7 separate regions of the Homo sapiens genome follow, and all the other regions are linked to region 5. The links come from fine-mapping of genetic effects on gene expression. A gene starts in region 5. Each other region holds a variant in brackets. All regions are shown on one strand. Distances are between the middles of the regions.

Region 1 (4,068 bases), 640 kb after region 5:
GAGTTCCAATGTGGATCAAAGCATGCAGGGGGTGGATGATTTGGAAAAGCAAAACCATCTCTCTTCATTACCACACAATTTCCCAGCTGAGATCATCACCAGAGTCCTACAAATCAGACAGTCAGCTTGCCCCAAACTCTGTTCCTAGAAGCTGTGACCCAGAGGGAGCCCTTGTCCAGCTATAGCCCAGGGACACTGCACCCTGGACAGGACTGCACCTGTTCCCTCCCAGGAGCCTCATCTCTGTCTGGCCTGGCTTTGGCTTCAAATACCCTCAGCTTTGGAGCTTTGGCTTCAAAATCTGTTGGATCAGATTCATGAGAGCTCTGGCCTTCTTTGGTTTAGGAATTTTAAAATAGTTTTTTCAGCAGGCAGTAGATGAACTCGGCTTGCTTACCTCTAAGGACTGGCTAGAACTCACAGAAAGCTGTTATACTCACAGTTATGGTTTGATTATAGGGAAAATATATAGATTAAAATCAGGTAGTGGAAGAAAGGCATAGGGCTGAGTCCAGGAGGTCACCAGATATGGAATGTCCATTATCCCTTCCCCATGCAGTCAGAGTGCATTACCCTCCTGGCTTTGATATGTGCCAATACACATGGAGTATTCCAGCCAGTGAGGCTCCCTCAAGCCTCAGTGTTCAGGATTTTTACTGGAACTTCATCACGGAGGCATGCTTGATTGTCCATGTGGCTGCTCTCAGTTTCCAGTCTCCAATCCTTTCAGGGGTGACCTAAAGCCAGGACTCTAAATCACATAGTCGGTTTTCCTGGCCTGGCTAGTCTCCACCCTAAATCTTATTATTAGACTATCCATCCTGACCCAAGATCCCCAGGCAAAAATATTCCTATCAGGCGTTACGTGTTGGAGATAAGGAGTCAAGGACAAAGGCCAGACCTATTTTTGGTTGTTAATTATTTTATTTTATTTTTTTTTACTATACAACATGCCATCATTCTGTTATCCTTCCTTTCTGTTTTATCTTCAAAATAACCCTAATTGGTGGGTAAGGATGTTTATTATTATAAATGAGATCTCAAAAGGAAAGGCACTTGGGCAAAGTTGCACAGTCTATCTTTGACTCGTGGTGCAATACTCTTTCCACTCTCTGAGAATCCTGAGTCCTGAGAAGAAGATAGAAGGAAGGTGTGTATATGTGTGTGTGCACGTGTGTGTGTGTGTAAATGTATATCTAATAAGTGTGTGTAGATATATGTATGTCTCTGTGTGTTTGTGTGTACATGTGGATGGGTGTCTGTATTCATGTTTGTGTGTGTGTGTACACATGCTCAGGGGGAAGGTTAAAGAGACAATCAGCAGGGTGCAGTGGTGGGAGGCAGACGGGGGAGGATCACTTGAGCCTGGGAGTTTGAGAAAGAGAAAATTTCAATAATCTTCCTCTTGCAATTAGAAGGAAAATCCTGGGGCTGGGCATAAAGAGAAATAAAGTACAGCATAAAGAGGCAGAAAAATGTCTAATGAAAAACAAGTGGCCAAGAATCTATAAAGAAATATAGCACATTAGCAGCAGAATAAAACTGGAAGATAATTTCCTCTAGAACCCTGATAATCTTTGTGAGAAAACTGTTGGTCACATATGTTAACTGCCGAAACTTGCAGGACCCTGTGCAACAGAACTGACAAGTAAAACCATGTTTCTTAAACTCACTATGCTACAACTGTCATTCAACTCTTTCACAACGAAGATTTCACAAACCTATCTCCAGCTTCCGGATGGTGAGGGAAAGTGTGATGAGATTTTGTGATAAATTGTGCCT[GTC/C]TCTGAGTCCATCTTCTCCTATTGAAGAGAAGGAAAATGAGGCTAGCACATTACAGCCCTGCCTGACAAAAGTCACAAGATAGGCAAATAATTATTATTTAAAACTGGAGTGTCCTATAATGTATTCATGAATGCCACACATTCTATATCAGATCATCCATTTCAATTTACTTATGTTCTTTGAAGCAAATTTATAAGATTTGAATTATTCAGAAAATGCTCCCAAGCTAATAGAAGAAAATACTTTAACCACATGAAGTATCATGCTACCCAATATGGTGTGGTGGTGAAGTGTGCAAGCTCTAAAACAAGAAAACACAGTTTCACGTCCTGGCCCTACCCCCTTGGGAAAGTTACGTGGTCTCTCTCTGCCTCAATTTCCCCATCTAAAGTGTGGGGATGACAATAATACTATTTCACAGAGTTGTTTTGAGGAAAAGAATATATGTAAAGCACTTTGAACAGCAGTTAGTGCTATGTAAGTGTTTCCTATTGTTATTTTAACATTTCAGATTATAAATATCTACCCTGTTATTCAGATGGCAAGCGTCCCTAAGCTGATAACATGATGAAGAGCTTTTGGGTTCCTCGATTTCCCATCAGCTTTGTGAGGAAAAAAATACCACATGAAGAAGAGCAACTGAAGCAGGTGTGAGAAGGAAACTTGGCTTAAGATTGGGGGGCTTGGGTTTGTTAGGCTTCTATCTTCTAAAAATTTCCTGAACTCCATTGATAAGAAGATTTTTAATATCAATCTAGCTAAAAAGGACCAATAGACCCCACAAGACACTGAGTTAGACATAAAAATAAAAGGGTAATAAATAGCCGGTTGCAATGGCTCATGCCTGTAATCCCAGCACTTTGAGAGGCCGAGGTGGGTGGATCATGAGGTCAGGAGTTCGGCCAGCATGGTGAAACCCTGTCTCTACTAAAAATACAAAAATTAGCTGGGCATGCTGGCACACACCTGTAATCCCAGCTACTCAGGAGGCTGAGGCAGGAGAATCGCTTGACCCCAGGTGGTGGAGGTTGCAGTGAGCCGAGATCGTGCCGCTGCATTCCAGCCTGGGTGACAGAGCGAGACTCTGTCTCAAAAAAAAAAAAAAAAAAAGAAAGAAGGATAATAAATGAAATATGGAAAACTACACAACCAGAAAAATAAACAACTACCAATACCCAAAACATGGCTAAATCTCATAGGATTGTGTTGAATGAAAGAAGTCAGCCACAAACATGCACATACTGTATGAATCCATTTATATTCATAATTAACCCAGGGTGACAGACGTCAGGATTGTGGTTAACTTTGAGGAGGACAGCAACTGAGAAGGGGCAAGAGGGAGCCCTCTGTGGTGATGGAAGCATTCTGTATCTTGAGCTGAGTGGTGGTCACATGAATGTGCACATATGTAAATAGTATGGAGTTGTAATTTAAGGTATATGCATCTCACTGTATGTAAGATACTGTCTTAGTCCATTCGTGCTGCTATAACAAAATATCTGAGACTGGGTAATGTGTAAAGGACAAAAATTTATTTCTCACAGTTCTGGTGGGTGGGAAGTCCAAGATCAAGGTGCCAGCAAATTTGTAGTCTAGTGAGGGCTGCTCTCTGCTTCCAAGATGGCACTTTAAATGCTGAGTCTTCCAGAGATGAGGAATGCTGTGTCCCAACATGGTGGAAAGGACAGAAAAGCAAAAGAAGGAAACCGAGCTAGGCAGCTCCCTCAAGCCCTTTCATAAGGTCACTATCCCATTCATGAGGGGGCTCTTCCCTCACGACTTAATTATCTCCTAAAGACGCTACCTGTAATCCCAACACTTTGGGAGGCCAAGGCGGGCAGATCATGAGGTCAGGAGATTGAGACCATCCTGGCCAACATGGTGAAACCCCGTCTCTACTAAAATACAAAAAATCAGCTGGGCATGGCACACCTGTAGTCCCAGCTACTCGGGAGGCTGAGGCAGGGGAATTGCTTGAACCCGGGAGGCAGAGGTTGCAGTGAGTCGAAATCATGCCACTGCACTCCAGCAGCCTGTAAACAGAGCAAGACTCCATCTCAAAAAAAAAAAAAAAAGACTCCACTTCTTAATACTATCACACTGGGGTGTGAGTTTCAACATGAATTTTGGAGGACACACAAGCATTCCAACCATAGCAAATTTACTTTATTAAAAAAGAAAAAAAAAAAGGAAAATCCTGTCTCCAAACATGATATTTTAAGAGTTGATATATTTACATCCCAATTTTCCAATTGCTTACATACATATTTGTGACGATCATTT
Region 2 (4,068 bases), 35 kb after region 5:
GCCTCAGCCTCCTGAGTAGCTGGGACTACAGGGGCCCGCCACCATGCCCGGCTAATTTTTTGTATTTTTCTTAGTAGAGACGGGGTTTCACTGTGTTAGCCAGGATGGTCTCAAACTCCTGACCTCATGATCCACCCGCCTCGGCCTCCCAAAGTGCTAGGATTACAGGCATGAGCCACTGCGCCCAGCCAATACTTGATATTTTAAAGCAAGAAACAGCAGCTGTTAAGGTCACTCCCTTTGTAAAATGGATCTATATGAGTTTCATTTTCTTTAATAAATGAAACTTTAGGCTGAAACTCTCAAATTCCCTTATCTCCAACATGCAAAGTTAATTTCATCCACATCTGTCTTGTGAAAGTATCTTTCTTTCTATATCAGTTAGAATGCTTTCAGCTGGTAAGTGACAGAGACCCAACTGAAAGTATCGTATGTAATAACTGCATTTTATTGTCTCATATAACTAGAAATCTGGAAGAAAGATAGTTTTTTTGTTGGCTTATATAGCAGCTAACTCTTATCATCAGACTCTCTGGCTCTGTCTTTTCATTCTACCATCCTGATAAGTTGGCTTTTGTCTTCAGACTTTTCCCCTCCTCATCTCAAGATGGCAGCTTTAACTCCAAGAATGACATACTCATATCAAAGCACCCATGACTGTAAGAAAAGAAGGTGTCTCTCTTATGTCTTTTTTTAAAATGAAGAAAACTTTCTTAGAAGCCTCCTAGAAAACATGACCTCATTAGCTAAAATTGCATCCTATACCCGTTTCTAAGCCAGTCAGTGGTGAGGGGTACGGAAGTCCTGTGTTTGGCTTAGACTAGTCAAGATTCATGGCCCTTCACTCCTCCCAAGGTAAAAAAAAAAAAAAAATAGGATTTTGTTATTCAGAAAGAAGGGAAGACTAGGTAGGCAACCACTAGTGTCTGCCGTATCTTCCAAGGCCAATTTATTTGCCTAGAGCTTTAATTCCTTTCTGCCTCTTAGAAGACTTTGTTAATAATTTCTTTTTGCGTTCATTTTCAGTCTTCTCATTCTTTTTCTTCAGGCTTATTGAAAGAAGAGTCTGCATATGCTGCCTTCATTTTTTTCCCCTCCCATTTATTCCTTAAATTCCTTGCAATCTGGATTTTGTTCCTCCTAATAAGAACCTTCCTTTCTATCAACAGCAATAACCACCTGATTCCCAAATCCTTTGCCAGTGTCTTTGTTTTCTGGATTTTCCATTCTCTGTTTCATTTGTTTGTACATTATTCTTTATTATTTCCTTCCGTCTGCTTGCTTAGGTTTAGTTTGCTTTTCTTTTTGTAGGTTCTGTCTTAAGGTGGAAGATTAGATTATCCACTTGAGATCTTTCTTTTTTAATATAGGCATTTATAGCTACAAATGTCTTTCTGGGTATTATTTTCTTTAGCTGTATCCAATAAATTTTGGTATGTTGAGTTTTAGTTCTCACTAATCTCAAGGTATTTTCTAATTTTCTCTCTGATTTCTTTGACCCATTGGTTATTTAGGAGTGTGGTTCCCTCCCATCTTTGTGAATTTCCTAAAATTCCTTCTGTTACTGATTTGTATTCTAATTGCATGCCATTGTTTCAGAGAACATTCTTTGTGTGATTAATCTCTTTAAATTATTGAAGGTTGTTTATGGCCTAGCATGTGGTCTCTTTTGGAAAATGTTTCATGTGCACTTAATAA[T/C]GCATATTGCCTTGTTGAGTGGAGTGTTATATAGTTGTCTGTAGGTCTGGCTGTCTTACAGTGTTGTTCAAATCTTCTGTATTCTTGTTGATTTTCTTCCTGGTGGTTTTATCTAGTATTGAAAGAGGGAAGTCTCCAATTATTATTTTTCAATTGTGTATCCCTTCAACTGTCTTTTCTTCCTTCTCTTGTTAAGTGCATATATGCTTCTAATTGTTATACCTTCCTGATGGATTGACCCTTCTGTCATTATGAAGTGTTTCTCTTTATTTCTAGTATTATATTCTTGCTTTAAAATGTATTTTGCCTGATTCTTTTATGTTTACTGTTTGTATGGTATAGCTTTTACTTTCAACCTATTTGTATGATTGAACCTAAAATGTGTCTTCTGTAGATTTTATATAGTTGGGATCTTTGTTCTTTTTCTTTTATAAAAATACAGCCTGATAATCTTTCTTTTGATTAGATTGCTTCATCTGTTCACATTTAATGTGATTACTGATATAGTTGGATTTTTGTCTGCAGTTACGAATTTTGTTTTCTATAGGTCTCAGGTCTTTTTTGTTCTTTCCTTTCTTGCCTTCTTTTGAATTAAGTAGATATATTGTAGTGTGATGCTTTAATTCCTTTGCTACTTTTAAAAATATATATTTTGAGTTATTTTCTTAGTGGTTGCTCCAGGGTTTACAGTGTACATCCCGATTTATAAGAATTTCACTTCTGATTTATACTTACTTTCAGCAAAATAGACTTCCTCTGTTAGCTCCATTTCCTTCCCCAACTTTTTCTGCTATTATTGATGTACCTATTATGTCAAACCCAACAACACACTGTTGTAATTTTTACTTTATGTCTTTTGAAGAAGCTGAGACAAGGGAGAGCAAGTACGTATTTATAGTTAGTTGTATTGACCTCTCTATTTTTTATTTTCTTTACATATTTCTGCATATTTGAGTTAGCTCTGGGGTCATTTTCTTACTCCCGAAGAACTTTGTTCTCACCTGCTTCTTTTGTGCTGTTATTGTCTAAATGTATAGCAGTAAATGTTGTTAGCCCAATAATTAAATTATAGCTACAGTGTTTTATTGAATTATTCTTTAAATCAGTTAAGAGAAGAAAGGGGAAGAAATATGCAATTACAGTGTCTTTTGCAATAATGTACGTAATTTCCTTTACTGGCATGCTTTGTTTTTTGGGGCTTCCAATTACTGTTTGGTGTTACTTGCTTTTAGCCTGAAGAATTTCCTTTAGTATTTCTTGTGAAACAGATATTCTAGCAACAAATTTTCTGTCTTTATTTTTCTGGGGATGCCTTAATTTGACCTTTATTTTAAAAACACAGTATTGCTGGATATTAGAGTCATAATTCACAGTATTTTACTTTAGTACTTTGAATATTTAATTCCATTGCTTTCTGGCCTCCCTTGTTTCTAATGAGAAGTCAGCTGTTAATCGTATTGGGGGCTGCTTTGTACTTGTCTGGTCATTTTGCTCTTGCTGCTTTCAAGATTTTCTCCTTGTCTTTGGCTCTCAAGATTTTGCCTGTAATGTGTCTGGAAGTATATCTCTTTGTATTTATCCTATTTAGAATTTGTTGAGCTCCTTGGGGGATGTGTAGATTCATATTTCTTTTTCTTTTATCAAATTTGGAAAGATTTCAACCATTATTTATTTATTTTTTGTTCTTTTTCATTCATTTTTTTTTTTCCTCTCTCTGAGATAGGGTCTCACTCTCTCACCCAGGCTGGAGTATAGTGGCATGATCTCAGCTCACTGCAGGCTCTACCTCACTGCAGGCTTAAGCAGTCCTCCCACCTCAGCCTCCTGAGTAGCTGGAACTACAGGTGTGTTTCACCCTGCCTGGTTAATTTTTAATATTTTTTATAGAGACAGGGTCTCACCATGTTTCCTAGGCTGGTATCAAATTCCTGGGCTCAAGCAATCCTCCCACCTCGGCCTCCCAAGATGCTGGAGGTACAGATGTGAGCCGCCATGCCTAGCCTCATTATTTCTTTAAGTATTATTTCTGCCTCTTTTTTCTCCTAATGGCATCTGTTTTAGTCCATTTTCTGTTACTGTAACAGAATACCAAAGACCAATACCAATAAGGAAAAGAAATTTATTTCTTATGGTTCTGGAAGCTGAGAAGTCCAAGAGCATGGTGCGAGCCTCTGGTGAGGGCCTTCTTGCTGGTGGGAATTCTCTACAGAGTCCCAAGGTGGCACAGAGCATCACATGCTGAGAGGGCACATGAGTGAGAACAAAACTGGATTTTATAAACAGATGCACTCTTGTGATAGCTAGCCTACCTGCGTGATAACCCATTAATCCAGTAACTTATTAATCTACTAATCCATTCATGAGAGCAGA
Region 3 (4,068 bases), 210 kb after region 5:
GAGGTATAACAAACATATTATCAGACACAGAAAGTATGCAGCCCCAGAAAGAGGGGACGTGCAAATCGGACTGCCTTCGATGCTTTCAAAGCAGCACATTTTCCCCCTAAACTGATATTGCAGAGAGCTGGGGTTTTTTTTCTTTCCTTAAGAATGAAGAGTTAATCTTATCTAAATTCACAGAGCCAGAAACCTGTCATATTAAATCCCAGGGAAGCCCAACATTCTTTCCAACTTGCTTGCTTGAAATGTAGTTGAGTTTTCCAGTGATCTGCTGGCTAACTAGCGTCATGCAAAATGGAGCCGTTCCTTACGGCTTTGCAGGTCTCTGGGATTCCAAGCTGGGGACTTCTCTCATTTTGGGGAAAAAGCCTGGGACCATGAAGGGAGGAAACTGGAGAGAAAGGCCAGGATGGACTCTGGGCGGCTGGGCAGAGACTGTGTGCAGGTTCGTACAGCTCCGGGCGGTTACAGTTCTGGTCCCCGGCAATGCCAAGCACCCTGTGGAAAAGTGGCCCAGGCTTCAAGCTTCAGAATCGGACTCCTACCCCTTAAAGCTGCAAGCTAGCAGAAAAAAAGAGAGCTGCAAGGGAGCTGTGAAGGGGAAGGGGTCTCCTCCGGAGGGAGAGACGACTGGGATAGCCTGTTTGGGACTGAGTGTGGGGAAATGTGACAAATTCAGCCTTTTCATCGTGCGCCCTGAGCCGAGCAGAAGCGGGGCGGTAGGAGATGATTCCGCTTGCTCCGAGTTTCCAAGCTCCTTGCTCCTTTCCAAATTGCTTGCGGCAATGTAATTCTTTCCTTCGGGGACAGGCAGAGCTCCACTGTTTTTCTGGTTTCCAGGGTGTGCCCATGAGTTACCCAGAGTGGGTGGAGCGGTGGGGCCACTCTGGAATAGCCTTGCGGCAGACGCGGCTGACTGCCCTCGAACAGAACTGGCGGATCCCAAGAAACCAACCACGCGGCAAGATTTGGGGAGCCCACAGCTTCTACTCAGACACCCCTGCAGAGTGTTTGCTCATTGCTAAAAACGTGCAGGCGTCGTAGGGAGTGTCCCCAGAGGCCATTGCCTAGCTTGCCTGCAAGCCCTTAGTGAGCACCTGCCCTGTGCGAGGTTCCGAGCTCCACTCACGCAGGTCCTGCCCTCAGGAGCTCACTGTATTGCAGAGACACAAGAGGACACCAGGGTGGCTGTCTGTTCTGTGCTGGGGGAGGCCAAGGGACTCCTCACCTGCCCATCTCTCAGGAGTTTCCAACCTTTCCCCGCCAGTCCAGTCTGTGACTGGCAAGTTACCAACTGCCCCTCTTCCTTGAAAACAGCCACCTTCCTAGGTGGGTCCTGGGTCTCTGAGCTTTCCTGAGATCTAGAGAGAGGAGGAAAAAGTGTCTCTGTCACAGCTGGGGCTTCCCTAGCTGACCCTCCTCCCCCGCCACCTCTGGAGCTGAGGTTAGCAAAGCCGTGCCTACATCAGCTGAGCTGGGGAGTTTGCCGGATGAGCAGGCCTGGTGGGGCAGTGACGTTTGAACATGTCAGGTGGACAGTTGTATGTCAGGAGGTGAGAGGAGAGGGGTTGGCTGGAGAGAGCAGGTTGGATTCACCAGCACTTGGAGCACCCAGAGGGAAGGGGACCCGCCAGAGAGGGCGAGGCCAGAGGAGGCCAGACGAGCCCGAGGGCAGTGAGGTCAGCCCCTCCACCCGCCAGCCTGCAGGGATGCCTCTGGGTCAAGGCTGCATGAGCAGGGTCCTGCTTGGCCACTTATCAGCCCCTACAGCCTTAGAAGCCAAGCCCCAGCCCACTTCCTCCTGTCGACAGCACTGGCTCCAGGCCAGTAGCTGTAGTCATGGCCTGTTGACCAAGGGCTACAC[G/T]GGCCAGTGGCAGGAAGCTGCTGGTAACTCAATGAACAGACACGAGAGCTTGCAGAGTGGACTCCACAGCCTGCCTTGATTTCAGGTCCAAAGGACAGGTCCAAAACTGCACAGTACTGCAGTTCTGCACAAAATGGGTCCCTCTGCACCGTGGTTGGGTTGACTTTGAGGAGTGAGTTGAACCAGCTTCCCTCCAATACCCCAGTACCATGCATGGGGTTCCCTGGCAGCTCACGGGACAGAGCTTTGGACTGGTTCTCTCTCCAGCATCTAACCCTAGGATGAAGGTTGAAGAAGGGATTTCTCAACTCCTGAGCTCCCTTCTCCCTCTCTCCTGGCCCTCTCCCCAGTGGGGGGGCTCGGGGATCACAGACACATGCCTCAGTCTCGTTTTTTGAGGGCCATGGTCACATACCTAAAACCCAGCCACCTGGAGAGTCCTCTAGATGTTTAGATTCCCATGTTATTCTAGAGGAAACTTTGTTTGTTTGTTTGATTTTTGAGACAGAGTCTTGCTCTGTTGCCCAGGCTAGAGTGTAATGGCGCAATCTTGGCTCACTGCAACCTCCGCCTCCCGGGTTCAAGCAATTCTCTGCCTCAGTTTTCCAAGTAGCAGGGATTACAGGCACCCGCCACCATGTCCAGCTAATATTTTTGTATTTTTTAGTAGAGACGGGGTTTCACCATCTGGGCCAGGCTGGTCTTAAACTCCTGAACTCGTGATCCACCCACCTTGGCCTCCCAAAGTGCTGGGATTATAGGCATGAGCCACCGTGCCCGGCCTCTAGAGGAGACTTTTTGGTAACCTCAATCCATAAATCCATACTGAAAAATATTTGGCTGAAAATCCACACGTCTGGTGTTTTTTTTGTTTTTGTTTTGTTTTGTTTTGTTTTGTTTTCTGAGCATATGACCAGAAAGGATACAGGTCTTAAACCTTCTCCCCAAGGAGGCAGTGTAGTGAGTTAAAGACTTGAAACCCCAGCTCTACACCTTGCTGGCTGTGTGACCTTGGGTATGATTTAGCCTCTCTGTAAAATGGGAGTAGTAACAGTCCCTGGCTCACAGGGTGAAAGGAGTTAATACGTCAAGTTCTTAGAATAGTGCCTGACACATAATGAGCCCTCACCAAGTCCCAGGGACTATTATTACTCTCTGCAGGAGAGTGATAAATGTACACAGCCCTCTCGCCTAAACCAGATTGGAGCCATAGTCAGAAAATAGAACGTTTTACATTATTTAAGCCTGACCACTTGTGTATGCAGAGTCTTGTGTCAAACTGCAGCATTAAGGGGTCAAAGGGAGACCTATTTTGAGTTAACTGAAGGAGTTCTCTCTTACATTTTAGTTTAAATACAGCTTCTGCCAAAGGTGTACTTGGGAACAGGACGTATTAACATAATCTCATCCAGTGAATTAAATCCAGGCCTTGGAATGCAAAGAGAAAGAAGCCAGATGGGAAGGCTGGGTAGGGAGCTACGCACAGCCTATTTGCTCTTCATCCTTAGACTTTCTTACACGTCCGCAGGCCTGTCACTTCGGGGGACCATCAGCTCTGTCTCCCAGCCCCAGTGACCTGCTGTCTGGCAATTAGGAGGTGTACTTTCCAAGAATTCTGGATTTCCCTGAGTCTATAGCTTCAGTCCTCCTTTACCTGCTGATACAGTTTATATGTTTGTCCCCTCCAAATCTCATGTTGAAATGTGATCCCTGATGTTGGAGGCGGGGCCTGATGGGAGGTGTTTGGGTCACGGGGGCAGATGCCTCCCTCCCACGGTAATGAGTGAGTTCTCGCTCTATTAGTTCACATAAGAGCTGGTTGTTTAAGGGAAACTGACACCTCCTCTTTTATCTCTCTTGCTCCCTCTCCTGTCATGTGACATGCCTGTTCCCCCCCTTCCCCTTCTGCCATGAGTGGTAGAAGGTTCCTGAGGCCTCACCAGAAGCAAGTGCTGGTGCCATGCTTTTTTTTTTGAGGTAGGGTCTCACTCACTCTATCACCCAGGCTGGAGTGCAATGGCACCATCTCAGCCTCCTGGGTTCAAGTAATTCTCCTGCCTAAGCCTCCTGAGTAGCTGGGATTACAAGTGCCTGCCACCACGCCAGGCTAATTTTTGTATTTTGAGTAGTGATAGGGCTTCACCATGTTGGCCAGGCTGGTCTTGAGCTCCTGACCTCAAGTGATCCACTTGCCTCAGCCT
Region 4 (4,068 bases), 42 kb before region 5:
TTTTTTTCTCTTTTTAGAGACAGAGTCTCACGCTGTTGCCAAGGCTGAAGTGCAGTGGTGTGATCACAGTTTACTGTAGTCTCAGACTCCCAGGCTCAAGGAATCTTCCCACCTCAGCCTCCCTAGTAGCTGGGACTACAGGCATGGGCCACTGCACCTGGCTGATTTTTTAAAACTTTTTGTGAAGACAAGGTCTCACTATGTTGTCCCTGCTGGTGTCGAAGTCCTGGCCTCAAACAATCCTCCCACTTCGGCCTTCCAAAGCACTGGAATTACAGGCATGAGCCACTGCACCTAGCCTGCCTCTAGGATTTCTACTTTCACATATACTTCCTGTAAATCCTGCCCTTAGGTCAAAATAACCATGCTGTTATCATAAACACACACTTACCATAAATCCTGCCCTTAGGCAAATTCCCTATAGTATATAAGCCCTGGGTCTGCGGGGTAACCGTGCAGTGATCCACCATCTCATGGCCGCCTGAGACATGGCTTCTGTTCTTAAGTCCCTGTTAAATATTTCTCTCTGAGAAACTGGATTTATCACCCTCTTTCTTCAGCTTCTCAGCTCCCTGGGCCTTTGGGGTAGGTTTGCACAGACCTGCTCATCCAGGAACACCCTCCTGGAGCCTCATCTCATTCCCTTTCTTTCCCGTTTACAGCTCCTCTATGTGGGTCCTTCCTGATTCCAGGGTCTCCCCTCACCACCCTGCCATCCGATACCCCCCTCTCCTCTGCAGAGCTCTCCCCAGAGATTCCTCCAATCTGTCATCTTCATCCCCAGCACTTCACTCTGCAAACAGCCCTCTTAATTTTGGGGCCAGTTTTTTTTTTTAACTATTTTCTTTTATTTCAAACATTTTTGAGGTACAAATTGTTTTTGGTTACATAGATGAGTTGTATAGTGGTGAAGTCTGAGATTTTAGTGCACTGAGGGCCCTCTTGAGACTCCCCGCTTCCTTTGAAAGCAGCAAGAGATTGTAAATAACAAAGTACTTTTCCTCTCACAAATAAAACTTTCCTGTCACTTGTATATTTGTCATTGTTCTGCTTCCAATAAGCAGCCATCTCTTAAAGGGCAAGGGATCTTATCTGTTGAAATCCAATGTGATCTGTGTCATTTGTGGATGTGGAGGGAAGACGGCTATTAATGTAATACTCTGCATCGAGCAGGCTCTTTATGTTTTTGGACTCTCAGAACAACATGAAAACCTCAGAAATATCAATATGGTATCAAATGGAATGTGTTGCAATTAGAAGGAATTAAATTCTTTCCTTGTTTCCCCATAGACAGGGTCCTCTTAGAAGTAGGATATCATGAACTTCGAGCAAAGAAAACATGAGTTTTCTGAAGACAATAATCTAACAAACACAAACACATTAACTTAGGCAGACTTCACAAAGTTTCCTTAATTCTTTCCAGTAACAGGCAAAGAGAAAGAATTCCTATTTTGCTAGCTCCTTCGTTCTTTTCTCCTACCTCTTCTAAACTTTCCCTATCCCTTGTACCTTTTCCATATCTACCCTACACACATGCGCACGCACACACACACACACACACACACACACACACACACACACAGAAACATAGAGAAGGTATGTTAAGATTACCTGGTAGAGTACTCAACAAGAGTCAAAATTGTATGATTTATGGCTGAAAATCTATTTTTCTCTAACAATTTTCTCCTTTAAAAACCAGTTCCAATAGCTCGGCTTCTTCTCAAATGCACTTTCTGCGGTAATATTTTATATCTCCACTCCCTTCCCTGGAACTTCATTTTTATTTGATTTTATTGACGCTGCTCTATTGGAATGTGTATCGCTTGAGCCCCCATGGAGAACTGAGCAGGTGTGAGTAAAGCAAAACATCTTTTGTTAATAGAAGTTCACCCTGGGAGTTCATGGAGATGCGTAATTTCAATTGCTTTTATGAAAATTCTGTAAATTCCTGTGTTGTGAATTTTGAACAGAGCTTAGGAGACCAACAGTCTTTAATACAAGCCAAAGACATGCTTATTTCTATAACTGAAATAAATGTTCTGCTTACTTTCTTCCAAAAAAATAAATGCAGGTATTTAATTGGAATGTTTAAGCTGTAGAAAATCATATTAACTTTGAGTCTGGCTCTTGGAGCCAAAATGGAGATCTCACTGTGATCAGCCTACAGGAAGATGACTTTGGTTTTCCTGCGTAACTTCTTGAAGCATGAAGAAGAGCTTACCCCACTTTCATGTGGGGTCGAGAATGACTTCACAAC[T/A]GCATTGTCCATTCCCTGCTCAAGTCTTTGTACATATTTATATTTAAAAACCTAGAGAATGTGAACAGCATCCCCCAACCTCTCAGCTTGAGGGGGTGTTGTATTATTATAATTCTCTCTGTGTGTCTAGCCCTCTTGGATTCACTGCCACAGAGACTCTGGGGGTGAGGTTAAGCCTAGCTTTCTTCCTGGTTTGGGGCCAGACATGTATGGTGTTGCACTCTCCTAAGCTGGAAGGAAAGACGTAAGCTTGGTATATTATAAAATTGCATGTGTCATTAGCAAAAGATGTCAGAATGCTTTATTTAAAACTTTGTTTTCTCAGGTTGTGTTGCCCAAGTGTATCTTGGCATAGACAACTTCAGCTTCAAAAATTCCAAGACGTATAAAGAGTTTCACATAGCTGAGGCTATTATAGTTGGTTATATGCCACTAACACCTTTTCCCCCTTCTTTCTTACTGAGTGAAGTGATGACTGCATTTCTACTAAAAATTTCATTCTCTTCTCCTGGCAACCACAGGGTCTATTCTTGATGGGATCATTTATCTGTTCCAAAAAGAAAAATGTGGCATTTGCTATGGTGTGGGATCTTTGAGGGTTTCTTAGATAAAGCCTTTAGAGTAAAAGCTTTCACTATTCTAGGACAACTTTCAGAAGAATTATCTAGCAGCCTGCCCTGGTAAACTTGCCAAATTGCTCGTACTTGGCTAGAAACCATGGGCAATCTAAGGTCCATCTTCCCCCTGTAGAGCAATAGAGTGTCTTTGGCTAGGAGCTAAGCATACTCATTTGATGTTTGGGAGAGTTTTTCAACCTGAAGATAAATTCCTTTAAAGGATTTGTTTTAACTGACAATTAGACAGCTTCATATCTACTTATGCTGAAATGAAGGTCACCTATAGAGAAGAAGAGAGATGCCTTTTTAAACATATTCCCTCGTGGTTTCTGATGCTACCTGGCAACTGGGTGGTGAACTAACAAGGGCTCAGAGTATTTTACCCTCCTACTTCTCCCATCAGACTCTTACAGAGCATTGCTATTCTTTTTTAAGTGTAAAGAACTTGAGGATGTTCCAGTACAGCCCAGAAACTTCTTTGGGAACACAGTCCTTATGGTCAGGGACTAAGTCTAGTCTCCCAGGAAGGTCCCAGCCTATGCTGATGACCTCAGCACATACCAATGGAACCCGACTGGACTGAGTGTACTCACATCTGTCCCCAGAAACCTTGCTTTATTTCCACAGCTACATTACCTCAGCCCTTCAAAGTTGCCACAAGCAATGTTGGAATTTAATGTCGGTCCCCTTGGCCACAGTGAGTAAGAACAGTTGCTGAAAAATAGCAAATGGGTGTGGAAAAATTAAGCGGGGGGATATTCAATAATCAGAGGGTGCATGAAATCAACAGAGTAAGAGATGTGCCATGATGCTCTCAAAAGTGCTGAAGCCATCCTGCCACCAATACTGACTGCAAGTGTCTTGGGACTGAAATATACCACTAAAATGGTATGATCCTTAAGAGAGGCTATGCGGTGAATGGGGCTGTATGAAATAGCAGGAAGTGATTCATAGGCTCAGGTGTGCCTGGCACACGACTCCCCCAAGTCACCTGCTCACCTGCCCAGCCAGAGTTCAGTGAATGCAGGCATATAATGGAAAAGATGGGCAGGGTGGTGAGAGTTACGGAACCTGAGTTCAAGGTGCTGCATGGGTCCCAAGCCTTTAGGTAAGTCATTTTCATTCTCAAAGCCTCATTTCTCACTAGCAAAATGAGAGGTCTGGACTGTCCAGCATCCAGCTTTTTGGTCCCAG
Region 5 (4,068 bases):
GTACAGCCTTTACAAATTTCTTTTACATCATTTGATAATAACTAATATTCAGATAAAATATACAAATATTTTTTCAAATCAGAACATTTAAAAACACTGACGTAGATTTTTCTGGAATAATAAACGTTTTTATTTTTAACCAGCTCAGATCTCGAATTAAAGCCTAATATTCCCATCATCACTCTTTCCTGTAAAAATAAGACAGCACTTTCAATGAGAGTGGAAATAAACCATTGTTTCAGGTTTTACTTACAACTGGAGCTGCCTTGCAAAATCCCTGCCCTGGCCATCTGCCGTGGTTCCAAATAAGTTTGTAAAAGTGAATCTTGCCATTTTCAATACTTCCTCCTTTGGGTCTATTTATTCCGAAGTCTGTTTTTCTCATTCTTTTAATTTTTTTCCCCCCAAGACGGATTTGTCTGAGACACTTTTTTGCCATAACATTTGTTTTTTCTGCTTACGAGAGTGTAAGAATTCCACAAGCCAAATGTTAATATTTTGTTGTCAGTTCTTTAAGCCTTCATTTTTTCCGTCTATCGAGCCCTTTTTTTTAACCAGAACTCATTGCTTCTGAGAGTATAAAAGAGCAAAGAGGCCGGGCGCGGCGGCTCACACCTGTAATCCCAGCACCTTGAGAGGCCGAGGCGGGCGGATCACGAGGTCAAGAGATGGAGACCATCCTGGCCAACATGGTGAAACCCTGTCTCTACTAAAACATAAAAATTAGCCGGCTGTGGTGGCGCGCGCCTGTAATCCCAGCTACTCAGGAGGCTGAGGCAAGAAAATCGTTTGAACCCGGGAGGCAGGGGGTACTGTGAGTTGAGATCGCGCCACTGCACTCCAGCCTGGGAGACAGAGAAACACTCTGTCTCAAAAAAAAAAAAAAAAAAAAGTGGGGAGCAGAGAGCCGGACTTGGACACGGGAAGGTATCGTGACATGAGTGGGTCGGGGGCTGGAAAGTTTGCCCAGGCGAAGAAGTGAACATGTTTATCCGGATCACCGTTTGTTAAATGAACAGCAACCCATAGGTAGCTTCACCGAGCCGAAACGGGAAAGGCGGCAGGCAAGGGAGAAGCTAAAATCTGCAAGAAACGGGCTGGGCTGGAGGCGGCGCCAGGGCAAGAAGGGCAGGTGGGGGCCCGCGGGAGCCGGGAGCCAGGGGCGGGAGCCGGAAGGGCGGGACCCAGGGGCAAGGCCTAAGTGGGCGTGGGAGGGGCATAGTCAAGAGATGGGCGGGGACTGCTCGGGGTCTGGGCGGAGTCTAGCGGGAGCCGCGTCGAGCCGGGGAGGAGCGAGGGACCCTGGGAGAGCTGTCTTTTCAGGGCTGAGGACCCGCCAGCACCTGATGGAGAGCAAATGGCTGTTTCCACACGTGGAGAACTTTTAACGAACACGTGAGGAAGGCGGGCAATGTCTGTGGAAAAACTACCTCACAACCCAGGCGTCTTACTCCAGCCCCCAGGGCGACAGCTTGTTTACAGTATTTCTGAAGGTCTCCGTCCCCTTTTGTCGGCCCCTCCTCCTCCTCTAACCCCGACTTCAGGCTTTGAGTGAGGCTTTGGTAGAGCAGTCGCCGCCGCAGGCGCCCCGGTCGGCGAAGCCCACAGGCATGCGGGCGCAGAGGCCGTCTGCGCCTGCGCGGGGTGTCTGCTACGGGGAGGTGCGTGGAGCTCGAGGGCGTGGAGCTCGGGGGCGTGTCTCCCGCCGCGGCGCCGGGGCGGGGCGAGGGCGGAGCCTGGGGGCCCAGCGGCCCGCGCCCCGTGGCTTGACCTCCCCGACTGCTGGGCCCGTGACGTCACCCCGCTGTGACGCGCACGCTGTAGGAAAACTGTAAGTTTACGAGGATTCCTGCAGCTCCTAGGGCTTGCGGGGCCCGCTGGCAGCTGGCAGTCCCGGCGGTGGTGGTGGCTCTGGGGGCGTCAGTTCCTTGGGGAGTCGCCGATTGTGGCGAAGGGACAGGTGTCTGCTCAGAGTGGCAGCGCGCCCTGCTGGGCGGTAGGGACCTGGGGTGCGGGAGGCGAGGCCGCGCCCCGTGGGGCCGGGCCAGCACCTTTTCCCCTGGGGCGGGGCGCGTCTCCGAGCCTGGGAGCGAGGCCTTAGAAGGGGCGGAAAGTCCAAATGGAGAGTCCCTTTTTTTCTTCCGTGATAAAGGGACTTAGATTCCTTTTCTTCCCCCTCTCAGCCTTGGAGTTTGACATGTTAAGTAGGGGATGGAAGCTTCCTCTCAGAGAATAGGAATCCTATGTCCTGGCCGTTGGGATCCCACAAGTGACCAAGTCATCGTGGACACATTTATAAGATAACCAGTTGCTGCCTCAGTTTTCTTTTTTGTGTAAAAGGGAGGTACAGCAGCCTCTGGCCTCCCTAATGGTTGTTCCCACAGCACTAGGAACACGTGAGATAACACAAGTGTGTAAATTTGCTAGGAGAAAGCTTATACACAGACACTTGGTTATTCTGAGGAATGTGGTAGCCACTGGCTATTTGACCAGGAATCTTGTAGAAGGGGAACTTTTTCACTGTTTTGCCTCCCCCCGACAACCTTCCCTCCATCTGATTCTATACCACACTGGAGCCTGTTGGGTGATCGAACTGTTGTCACTAAACTTGATAGAATGGGGATCCCAAGAAATAACAGGTATCGTTAGCACGGTACTCTTGGCAATTACAATGCCCCCGTTGTCTGGGTTTTGCAGAGGAAGCTTTCAGTGTGCTGGAACTAGCACATTATAGACAACACAGACTCACTGAGTTTTAAGGATTGCTGTATCGATTTGGAATATCCAATCATCGTATCTGACTGCTTGAATATTTTGGTCAAGGGGTACTACATTATCGATTAGTTATTACTAGACTATAATGCCTCTCAAACTCCGGGACTAGTAGTCTTCAGGAACTTTGAAGGGAAGAATACTGTGCACACTTCAGGGTGTATTTATACAGGAGCTCGAGAGTTCACATTTCTGTAAATTCATTTCAGGAGTGTGATATCTTTTCATCCAGGTAGGAAGAGCCTTTGAATCAGAAAGCAGGGCTTCTAATTTTTGTTCTATTCGTTAACTAGCTTCGTGTCCAAGGACAAGTCACGCAAACTTGGAACTTTGTTTTTCTTATCTAAAATGAGAGCCGATGGTTTATCTGTTTGTTGGTTTTTCCAGGATCAAATGAGATCACGAGAGTGCAAATGAAAGGCTAAGTGTGCTATTGTTATTAGGAGATTCGCATTGGTCCCCTAGCCTGGATGAGATGTGAGTCAGAAATCTCTGGAAATAGAGCAGCAAAGAAGACAGCCTCCAACCTAGCAGGGCTCATATTGCAGTGGGAAATAGACAACGAACAATACGTGCATAATGTAATTTCAGGTAGTCATAAGTGCAGTGAAGGGAAGGAAGAAAGGAGGACAGTGGGGGAACAGGGAAGGTTGTTTTTGGTGGGATCTGTCAGGAAAAGCCATTCAAAGGCAGGGACACTTGAAGTGTGAGGGAAAGAGCCTGAGGTAAGAACATTTCAGAGAGGAATAATTAATAGCAATGAACACTTAAAAAAAGTAGAGCTTACCATATGTAAGGCACTATTCTGAACACTAAATTAAATTTTTACAAGTCTTTTGATGTAACCTAGTATCTCCCTTTCATAGATGAGGCAACTGACACACAGAAAGGTTAAGAATTTGCCAAAGTTGCACAGCTAAAACGTGGTAGAGACTATTTGAACGTGGGCAGTCTGACTTCAGAGTCCAGGCTCCAGGTGACTGTATTTTCGGCCTCACAGCAGGAACAGCACAGGACAATGCTCTGAGGTGGTCCAGACACAGTGAGAGTGTTTAGAGCACAGCCGGGAACGGGGAAAGTAGTGGCCAATGATGGTCAAGGGCCAGGCAGGCCGTGGGGTCCCTTGTAGGCTGTGGTGAAGTAAAGATGTTGTTCTAACTGTGATGGAAAACCATTGGAAGGTTTGCATCAAGGGACTGGTGTCTGATTTAAGTTTTATTGTATGGAGAATTAACTGTAGATTAGAGTGGGTCGGATGGAGTGAAAATCGGGAGAAAGCTGCTGTGCCCTGCAGGT
Region 6 (4,068 bases), 290 kb after region 5:
CAGGGTCTCGCCCTGTCACCCAGGCTGGTGTGCAGTGGTCCAGTCACGGCTCACTGCAGCCTCAAACTTCTGGGCTTAAGCCATCCTCCCATCTCAGCCTCCCAAGTAGGTGGGACTATAGGCGTGCACCACCATGCCAGGCTAAGTGTGTGTGTGTGTGTTTGTGTGTATTTTTAGTAGAGACAGAGTTTTGCCATATTGCCCAGGCTGGTCTCAAACTCCTGGGGCTCAAGTGATCCGCCTGCCTTGGCCTCCCAAAGTGCTGAGATTATAGGCATGAGCCACTGCGCCCAGCCAAGAACTTTCATTACCACCCTGCCTTTTTCCCCAGCTTAGGGAAGACATAGAAAGCTATAAGTTGGCAGGACCTTAAGTGAGAACTAGGAGATATAAGACGGTGGGAGAACAAACCTTGGAATAAGATTTGAAAATGTGACCCTGTGCAGTGTGAAGCCTATGCCACCAGAAACAGAGTGGAAAGAGTGATAAGTGCTGGGGACATTGTTGCTCACTAATAGGTTATTTTAAACATAGGGGTAGGACCACGCTTCGCACTGTCATCTGTAATGTGTGAACAAAAATAGTTTTGTGGCCGGGCGCAGTGGCTCACGCCTGTAATCCCAGCACTTTGGGAGACCGAAGTGGGTGGATCACCTGAGGTCAGGAGTTTGAGACCAGCCTGGCCAACATGGTGAAACCCCGTCTCCACTGAAAATACAAAAAACTTGCTGGGAGTGGTGCCGCATGCCTGTAATCCCAGCTACTTGGGAGGCTGAGGCAGGAGAATTGCTTGAACCCAGGAGGCAGAGATTGAAGTGAGCCGAGACTGCGCCATTGCACTCCAGCCTCGGCAACAAGAGCGAAACTCCGTCTGGAAAAAAAAAAAAAGTTTTGTTCTAGCCGGATGCAGTGGCTCACGCTTGTAATCCCAGCACTTTTGGAGGTCAAGGTGGGTGGATCACTTGAGCACAGTAGTTCACGACCCGCCTGGGTAACATAGCAAAACCCCGTCTCTACAAAAAAATACAAAAATGAACTGAGCGTGGTGGCACATGACTGTAGCTCCAGCTACTTGTAGGGCTGAGGCAGGAAGATCACTTGCTCCTGGGAAGTGAGGCTGCAGTGAGCAGAGATCATGCCACTGCACTGCAGCTTGGGTGACAGAGTTAGACCCTGTCTCAAAAGAAAAAAATAGTTTTGCTCTGTCATTTGGTTGACAAAACCTATTTCAGCACTCCATTTGCCTTGAAATACGTCTATTTATTTCTGTGGTTATTCAGAAGTGCTGTCTTTTGTGCATCTGTGGGCTGCTCAGGACGGCGATGCAGTCTGAAGATGGATTTCACTATATTGAACGTGTACTATTGCATTTAAAATTAGAGACAAGAGAAAAGAAACCACCACTCACTGATGACAAGTGTCTGGTGAAATGGACACTTGTACAGGCTGCTTGTAAAAGTACATTCTGTTATGAGACATGGGAAAAACAATTTGGCAGTAAGTATCAAAACCTGTGTTGTGGGCGCTCATGTAATCCTAGCACTTTGGGATGCTGAGGCAGGAGTTTGAGACCAGCCTGGGCAACATAGTGAGACACTGTCTCTACAAAAAGTTTAAAAATTTAGCTAGATGTTGCCCAGGCGCAGTGGCTCATGCCTGTAATCCCAGCACTTTGGGAGGCTGAGGCGGGCAGATCAGATGGTTTCAGGATGGGGGCTAGTCACAGAAAGACCAAACGTTGTTTAGAAACCTGGAACTTTCAGCCTCGCCCTCCAAGCTCTGGGGAGAGCTGAGGAGCTGGAGATTGAGTTAATAATCCATCTTGCTGCCGGGCGTGGTGGTTCACACCTGTAATCCCAGTACTCTGGGAGGCCAAGGCGGACAGATCACAAGGTCAGGAGATGGATAACATCCTGGGCAACATGGCGACAAAACCCCGTCTCCACTAAAAAAATACAAAAATTAGCTGGGAGTGGTGGCACATGCCTGTAATCTTAGCTACTCGGGAGGCTGAGGCATGAGAATCGCTTGAACCCATGAGGCAGAGATTACAGTGAGCGGAGATTGCGCCACTGCACTCCAGCCTGGCGACAGAGGTAGACTCCGTCTCAAAAAAAAAAAAAAAAAAAAAAAGCTAGATGTCATGGTGTGTACCTGTAGTTCCAGCTACTCAGGAGACTGAGGCGGGAGGATCCCTTGAGCCCAGGAGTACGAGGCTGCAGTGAGCTAGGATCGTACCACTGCACTCTAGCCTGGGCGACAGAGTGAGACCTGTTTCTAAAAAACAAACAAAAAATCCTATCTCCTTTGACTCAGCCATTTCCCTTCTAGGATTTATTCTGTTTTTTTCTGTTTTTTTTTTTTTTTTTTTTTTTTTTTGTTGTTGTTGTTGTTGTTGTTGTTTTGAGATGGAATCTCGTTCTGTCTCCCAGGCTGGAGGGCAGTGGTGCGATCTCGGCTCACTGCAAGCTCC[G/A]CCTCCCGGGTTCACGCCATTCTCCTGCCTCAGCCTCCCAAGTAGCTGGAACTACAGGCGCCTGCCACCACTCCCGGCTAATTTTTTGTATTTTTAGTAGAGATGGGGTTTCACCGTGTTACCAGGATGGTCTCTATCTCCTGACCTCGTGATCTGCCCGCCTCGGCCTCCCAAAGTGCTGGGATTACAGGTGTGAGCCACCGCGCCCAGCCTCCTTCTAGGATTTGTTTTAAGGAAAAAAGTTAGTGGAGAGTTGCTGAGTACAGCACCACTTGCACTGTCAAAATTTGTACAGAAAACACATGTCCAGCATAAGGGGACTGGTTAAGTAAGTATTGAGACATCCATGAAATGTGACAATACACAGTCCCACAAATCATGTTGTGGAATGTGTTTTGGATCCATTGCTTAATGCAAAAAGTCACTTAAAAAACATTGTATCATGTGATCTCAATTTTACAAGAGAAGGATACACTGTGTATGCTTGGAGGAAAAGAATCACCAAAATATTTACAGTGACTATCTCTGCATGTTCAGAGAGGGCCTGATCTTTAATTTTTCTCCTCTGTGCTTTTCCTAATATTCTACCATAAACATACATTATGTTTGTTATCAGAGAGAAAGAAACAATGGGATTGTTGAAGAACCTCAGCCAGGGAAGTTAGCAGAATTCTTATAAAGACTAGAAGAATTTATACAGGATATTGGACTATTATATCATATTATATTATATTATATCATGCTGTAAGGTTCTGCAGTCACAAGGGGATGGGAGGGGAACTTCTTAGCAGTTCTATTTATGATCAGATGATCTTGGGGAAATACAGCGAAGGAAAACCAGGGTCAGCTGAGCCCAGGGAATTTTCTAAAGAGCATCATTTATGATGATCACATCTTGGAAAGAAGATGTAAGAAGTGTACTGGATATGTTTTGGTTTAGAGTTCATCATAAATTGGAGAGAAATAGTAGACTTGGATATCCCATAAAATAGCTCTGAATCCTGGTAGGATTAATTAAATCTCTATCCATGCAAGATAAAGTGGTGAAGCAAATCCTAACTGGGCCTCTGTTGCCTAGAATGGGTCTTGTGCTTAAAAACAACAACAACATACAAGAAGAAAGGAACCTGGCCTTGGAGCTGGAGTTGGTGATCTACATCCACCCTGGTTGGAGGCTCCATGAGACCCAGCCCTACACCCCCAGGTCTATCCGGAAAGAAGCCACGGCAAGGATGGTAGAGGTCGTCCTCATCAAGGAGGTTCCATTAACACCATCTCCTTTGTCAGCCACACCCATCCACCTGTGTGTGTGCCTGTATGCATGGGTGCCAGCCACAGGCATCACTTGTGTGTGTGTGCCAGCCATGCCCATCCAAGTGTGTGTGCACATGCCAACCACAGTCTATCTGTGTGCATGCATGTGTGCTGGCCATAGTCCAGACTGTGTGGGTTTTGCTTTGGCACCAGACTGGGAATCCCAGAATGGGGCAGCTGTGGGACCACTGCCTTGTTCCCTGTACCTTCATAAACAGCTGTTTCCTTATTTCATGCTGTAGCATGCTCAATACCTTAGAATCGTGAGTGTTGCTTAGGGG
Region 7 (4,068 bases), 62 kb after region 5:
TGTAATACTGAAATCAACTATGGAATTGAAGAAACTATGATTTTTCTTTTTAAAATAAAATTATTTACAGAGGAAATTCATGAATACTTTGTTAAAAAACAAAAAGCATTTATGTCAGGCTAAAGTTCCATTTGACTACCACCCTTCTGTCTCCCCAGAGATCATCATTTTGCTATTTATTCTTCCAAATTGTCTTCTAAATATTTTTATGCATATATATGTATACATACCACAGATGGATATGTTTTTTGTTGATGTTTAAACACAGAATGTTGATTGCTGGTTCATTTTAAATATGGCCTTCCGTTGTTATGTTTTATTTTTAATACTTCTGCAGTATTACTAATAGCAGCTGACACTTACTGCGTAGTTACTATGAGCTAGGCGGGATGCTTAGCATTTTTCATATAATTTAGCCTCATCTTCATAATAACCTTCAGAAGTAAAATAGTTTATTTTATATGAATAAAATTCTACCTTTAGTATACCTTTCATTTACAGTAAATTACTAATGCCAGTAGTTTAGCATTCTTTAATAAGATTTCTACCAAAACATTTGGAATGATTTTTTAAAATTGCTAAGACTGTAACTGCCAGTTCTGTTACACTTTTTATTCTTGTGCAGTTGGCCTTTACCAAGTCCCCAGAGTCGGGTGTCTGCTTGCTAAACCAGAAAGCTGGAGATATGAGGATGATTCTTGCTCAACTTTTAGGAATGAAGTGGTAGTATGTGTCCTATTTGACTGATTTTAAATGAGGAACAGACAACCCCAGACATTTCCTCACTAGTTAATGGTTTGAAAAGCCTATGCCTGTGATGATGTCCATTTTGGGGACAGTTATAGGAGACAAGACTTAGATTGAAGGTGGTTCCCTTTTGAAAGAAGTCTTCCATTGTGCCCTTGGTCATACCAGTATGAAGACATAAAGACGCTGCAATAGGAACTCCAAGAATTTTTATGGGAATTGGTAGAAAGGGGTATTGGGTAGGTTGAGAGAAAAAAAGGTTGTGCTTATGTATATGCTGATTTTGGAGTTTGGATGAGGATATTTTCCACATTTCATGACAAAATAAAGAGCTGTTAGTGAATGGGATAGCTCTCAGAGAGTTTTAAGTCTGAGCTCTGCTGCTTAACTAGCTGTGTGACTTTGAACAGCTTCATGACACTGTTTTAATCAAATAATAATATTCACTTCATACAGCTGTAGGGTCGAAATTACATAAAGTACGTTAGACATTGCTAAGTGTTTTATAAATGTGCTAGTATTAGGTGGTGTTCTTACTGTTTTCATTAACATAACTGTTGTCAAAAGCTTCTACAGTTCACCTCTATACCAAAGACTTAACCTACTTGCTTCTATCCTTTATTACTTGAGAAAGGTTACTATATTAGGGTTCTGTTATTTTCAGAATAGTAAAAGAGGACCTATCACCTCTTTTAACATTTAACAAATATTGAAGGCCTAATATATGTGTGTGTGTGTATATGTGTGTGTGTGTGTGTGTGTGTGTGTGTGTGTGTGTGTATCAGCCAGCATTTCTTCTGGCTGAATGCTAGTAAAGAAAGGATCATTTATATTAATAGTAACTCTGGAGGAGAGAAGAAGGTCCCAGTAAATATCATTTGCCAAAGGTCTCAGTAAATATCATTTCATTGTCATCATTA[T/G]TCTTCATAGGCTTTTTAAAATCTTTTTTGTCTTCAAGATTTAAAAAAGCATTAATTATTAATATCTGTCCATTTATGCAAGTATTTGTAAATAAATGAATTTGTAAATGGTTATGATGAGACACTGAAAAAAAAACAATAAAAACTTACCTTGCTTTGGTTTGGTTTTGGTTTTGGTTATGAAGTCACAAATAACATTCAATGGGAGTATGAGGTTTTTATGTTTAATAGGATGGAACATGGGTTAAAAATGTTAAGAAGTGCTCATTTCCAGAGTAAGCTCTCATTTTCAGCTGAGGAGACTGAGCTCCACTGAGCTTGCATTTGGTATACTTCGGGGTCCACATTCTAATGGGGAACTGATTATTGCTGGAAACCCAATCAAAAGTGTGGTTTATTCTGGGTTTGTTTAAAATTTTCCTTCCCACTGTTCTGTTTTCCTAATATAAGTATTATAGCAATTTAGAATTCATGGAAAGAATGAGCACCTTTAGCTTCTTACAGTGTCATGAGACTGCATATTTGTTATTCAGTGTTCAAGAAATTAACCATCAGTTGTTTAAGGCAACTAGGAAGTCTACAGTTTAATCTCATTTACTGTTATTTAGTGATATGCCATTTAGTATATGAAAACACTGTGGGTATAGGCTGTTGGTTGAAGCAGACTATGTGTGCTTTGGAGGGGGCACTTTGCCAAGGGAAAAAATCTTTTGATTTTTTTGTTCCCTCTTCTGGAGAGTTCTCAAAATCTATCCTTTTGACTTTTATTGGCAGTTGTCATTTTCATCGTCATCTCCATATTCTTTTATTTTTTTTGACTTACTCTGTGGCAAACCATCTCTAGCCTGAAGTTATACCAATGAAAAAAAAATCTTATTTCCAAGTGACCCATGAAATTCCATTCCATATTTTAAATGTGTCACATTGGAAATGCCACTTTTTTCTCCATTGTATTTTTGTTACCCTAACCCATGCCCTCACCATCTGAGGACTGTGTGTATTTTTACAGTTAATAGCTCTCATACTCACTGGTTTGTGGAAACTGAGCATTTCCCCTTTATCCAGAGGCAGTTGTGGTAAGTGTCTTGTTTTCTTCAGATCCCAACCACGGGTCTCTAAAGGTATCTAAGATCTGTATGGTCACATCTGCTTTTCCAAGTAACAGCTAGAAATATTTTACCATGCCTTCACTATAGCTAGGCTATAATAAAGTTTACAATCAGAGGCTGGGCACGGTGGCTCACGCCTGTAATCCCAGCACTTTGGGAGGGCTAGGTGGGCGGATAACCTGAGGTCGGGAGTTTGAGCTAGCCAGACCAACATGGAGAAACCCCATCTCTACTAAAAATACAAAATTAGCCAGGTGTGGTGGTGCATGTTTGTAATCCCAGCTTCTCAGGAGGCTGAGACAGGAGAATCGCTTGAACCCGGGAGGTGGAGGTTGTGGTGAGCCGAGATCACACCATTGCACTCCAGCCTGGGCAACAAGAGCGAAACTCCGTCTCAAAAAAAAAAAAAAAAAAAAAAAAAAGTTTACATTCAGTTAAATTCTCTAAGCTTCTGGCTTAGAATATTGAAGAAACTTTTACATAGAGTAGATAAAGGATGGAGTAGGAATTTCTGATTTGATTGTGTGTTATTGTGGAAAGAATGCTTTCCCTACAGACTGACTAGGAACAAGATGTTTAAACATAAGCCAGGGTGGAGACCTGTTTGGTCAGCTTTATAGGAGCCACGTTTCCCTACTTAGGATGAGTTTGCCAACTATCCCATCAACCTACCGCTGCCTGATCCTTCAAGTGTCTTTGGAATTTTTACTTAGGGCACTGTTGGGTAAGGCAGTGATATAGTACATATGTAGCAATTAGGCTAGAGGCTGTTTTGCGGAACAGCATGATTTTATCATGCCGTTATAAATTTATGCTGTGCTCTGTGTATATATATATAAAATGTCTTTTTTTCCCCTTTTTCTCCATCCCTCTCTGCTCCTGGCTTGTATATTCACATAACTGGGCAGCAGCAGGACTTCATTTATCACAGGCAGTGGGAGGGGGTACAGAGCTATGAAAGGGTTACTGTTCACATTTCCTGTGTAGTTCCTTCTGATCTTACTGAGTTGTAATTCCTTTCTTGATGTTAAACATTCCCAGGCTCCAGTAACCTTCTGGCCTGCTTGCACTGGCCAAGTGTGTCCCAGGTGATCTTGTAGGCGAACCTCCTGTTTTTAAGACAAGAAATCGCTCCTTCCTTCATGAGATAGGCTAAATATTCATTCCTTTGCAGTCCCAGAAGAAATCCTTTAATTTAAAACAACACCAGAGCAGTAACATATTAGTTTTAAAATTAAAATTTAGCAGCCATATTTGTTGTCAGGTTAATTTTGTAGATTTTTGAATCTATT

Which allele goes with the higher level. Alleles are on the strand shown, and positions count from the first base shown. SD is a standard deviation of normalised expression in the study named. Not every link is listed here.
For the expression in thyroid of the gene that starts at base 1,799 in region 5, allele G in region 3 goes with a higher level than allele T (small effect, 0.33 SD a copy in GTEx).
In carriers of allele A in region 4, the expression in unexposed skin of the gene that starts at base 1,799 in region 5 tends to be higher than with T alone (moderate effect, 0.43 SD a copy in GTEx).

Evidence for each region. PIP is the estimated chance that this variant, and not a neighbour inherited with it, causes the effect.
Region 1: its variant is the best candidate, but not a certain one, in a credible set for the expression of ZNF438 in anterior cingulate cortex (GTEx, PIP 0.63).
Region 2: its variant is the best candidate, but not a certain one, in a credible set for the expression of ZNF438 in monocytes (Quach 2016, PIP 0.78).
Region 3: its variant is the best candidate, but not a certain one, in a credible set for the expression of ZNF438 in thyroid (GTEx, PIP 0.60).
Region 4: its variant is the best candidate, but not a certain one, in a credible set for the expression of ZNF438 in unexposed skin (GTEx, PIP 0.61).
Region 6: its variant is the best candidate, but not a certain one, in a credible set for the expression of ZNF438 in whole blood (INTERVAL, PIP 0.51).
Region 7: its variant is the best candidate, but not a certain one, in a credible set for the expression of ZNF438 in whole blood (TOPMed, PIP 0.75).

Annotation. Positions count from the first base shown.
Region 1 is chr10:30,394,127-30,398,194 of GRCh38, reverse strand. No RefSeq gene overlaps it. Among named protein-coding and RNA genes, the nearest start is that of MIR7162, 27 kb to the right of the region's middle. The variant GTC/C (reference allele first, on the strand shown) is at 1,783.
Region 2 is chr10:30,994,381-30,998,448 of GRCh38, reverse strand. The region is part of intron 1 of ZNF438 (zinc finger protein 438); the gene reads left to right. Among named protein-coding and RNA genes, the nearest start is that of ZNF438, 35 kb to the left of the region's middle. The variant T/C (reference allele first, on the strand shown) is at 1,699.
Region 3 is chr10:30,815,910-30,819,977 of GRCh38, reverse strand. No RefSeq gene overlaps it. Among named protein-coding and RNA genes, the nearest start is that of LINC02644, 95 kb to the right of the region's middle. RefSeq lists enhancers at 1,876-1,925, 1,321-2,242. The variant G/T (reference allele first, on the strand shown) is at 1,868.
Region 4 is chr10:31,071,178-31,075,245 of GRCh38, reverse strand. The region is part of intron 1 of LOC105376481 (a long non-coding RNA gene); the gene reads right to left. Among named protein-coding and RNA genes, the nearest start is that of ZNF438, 41 kb to the right of the region's middle. The variant T/A (reference allele first, on the strand shown) is at 2,258.
Region 5 is chr10:31,029,596-31,033,663 of GRCh38, reverse strand. ZNF438 (zinc finger protein 438) reads left to right here and starts at 1,799. Exons shown (of 7, transcript NM_001143768.2): 1 at 1,799-1,831. It overlaps LOC105376481 (a long non-coding RNA gene), which reads right to left and starts at 1,156. Exons shown (of 3, transcript XR_001747410.3): 1 at 1-1,156. RefSeq lists a silencer at 1,578-2,137.
Region 6 is chr10:30,743,550-30,747,617 of GRCh38, reverse strand. No RefSeq gene overlaps it. Among named protein-coding and RNA genes, the nearest start is that of LINC02644, 22 kb to the right of the region's middle. The variant G/A (reference allele first, on the strand shown) is at 2,474.
Region 7 is chr10:30,967,565-30,971,632 of GRCh38, reverse strand. The region is part of intron 2 of ZNF438 (zinc finger protein 438); the gene reads left to right. Among named protein-coding and RNA genes, the nearest start is that of ZNF438, 62 kb to the left of the region's middle. The variant T/G (reference allele first, on the strand shown) is at 1,668.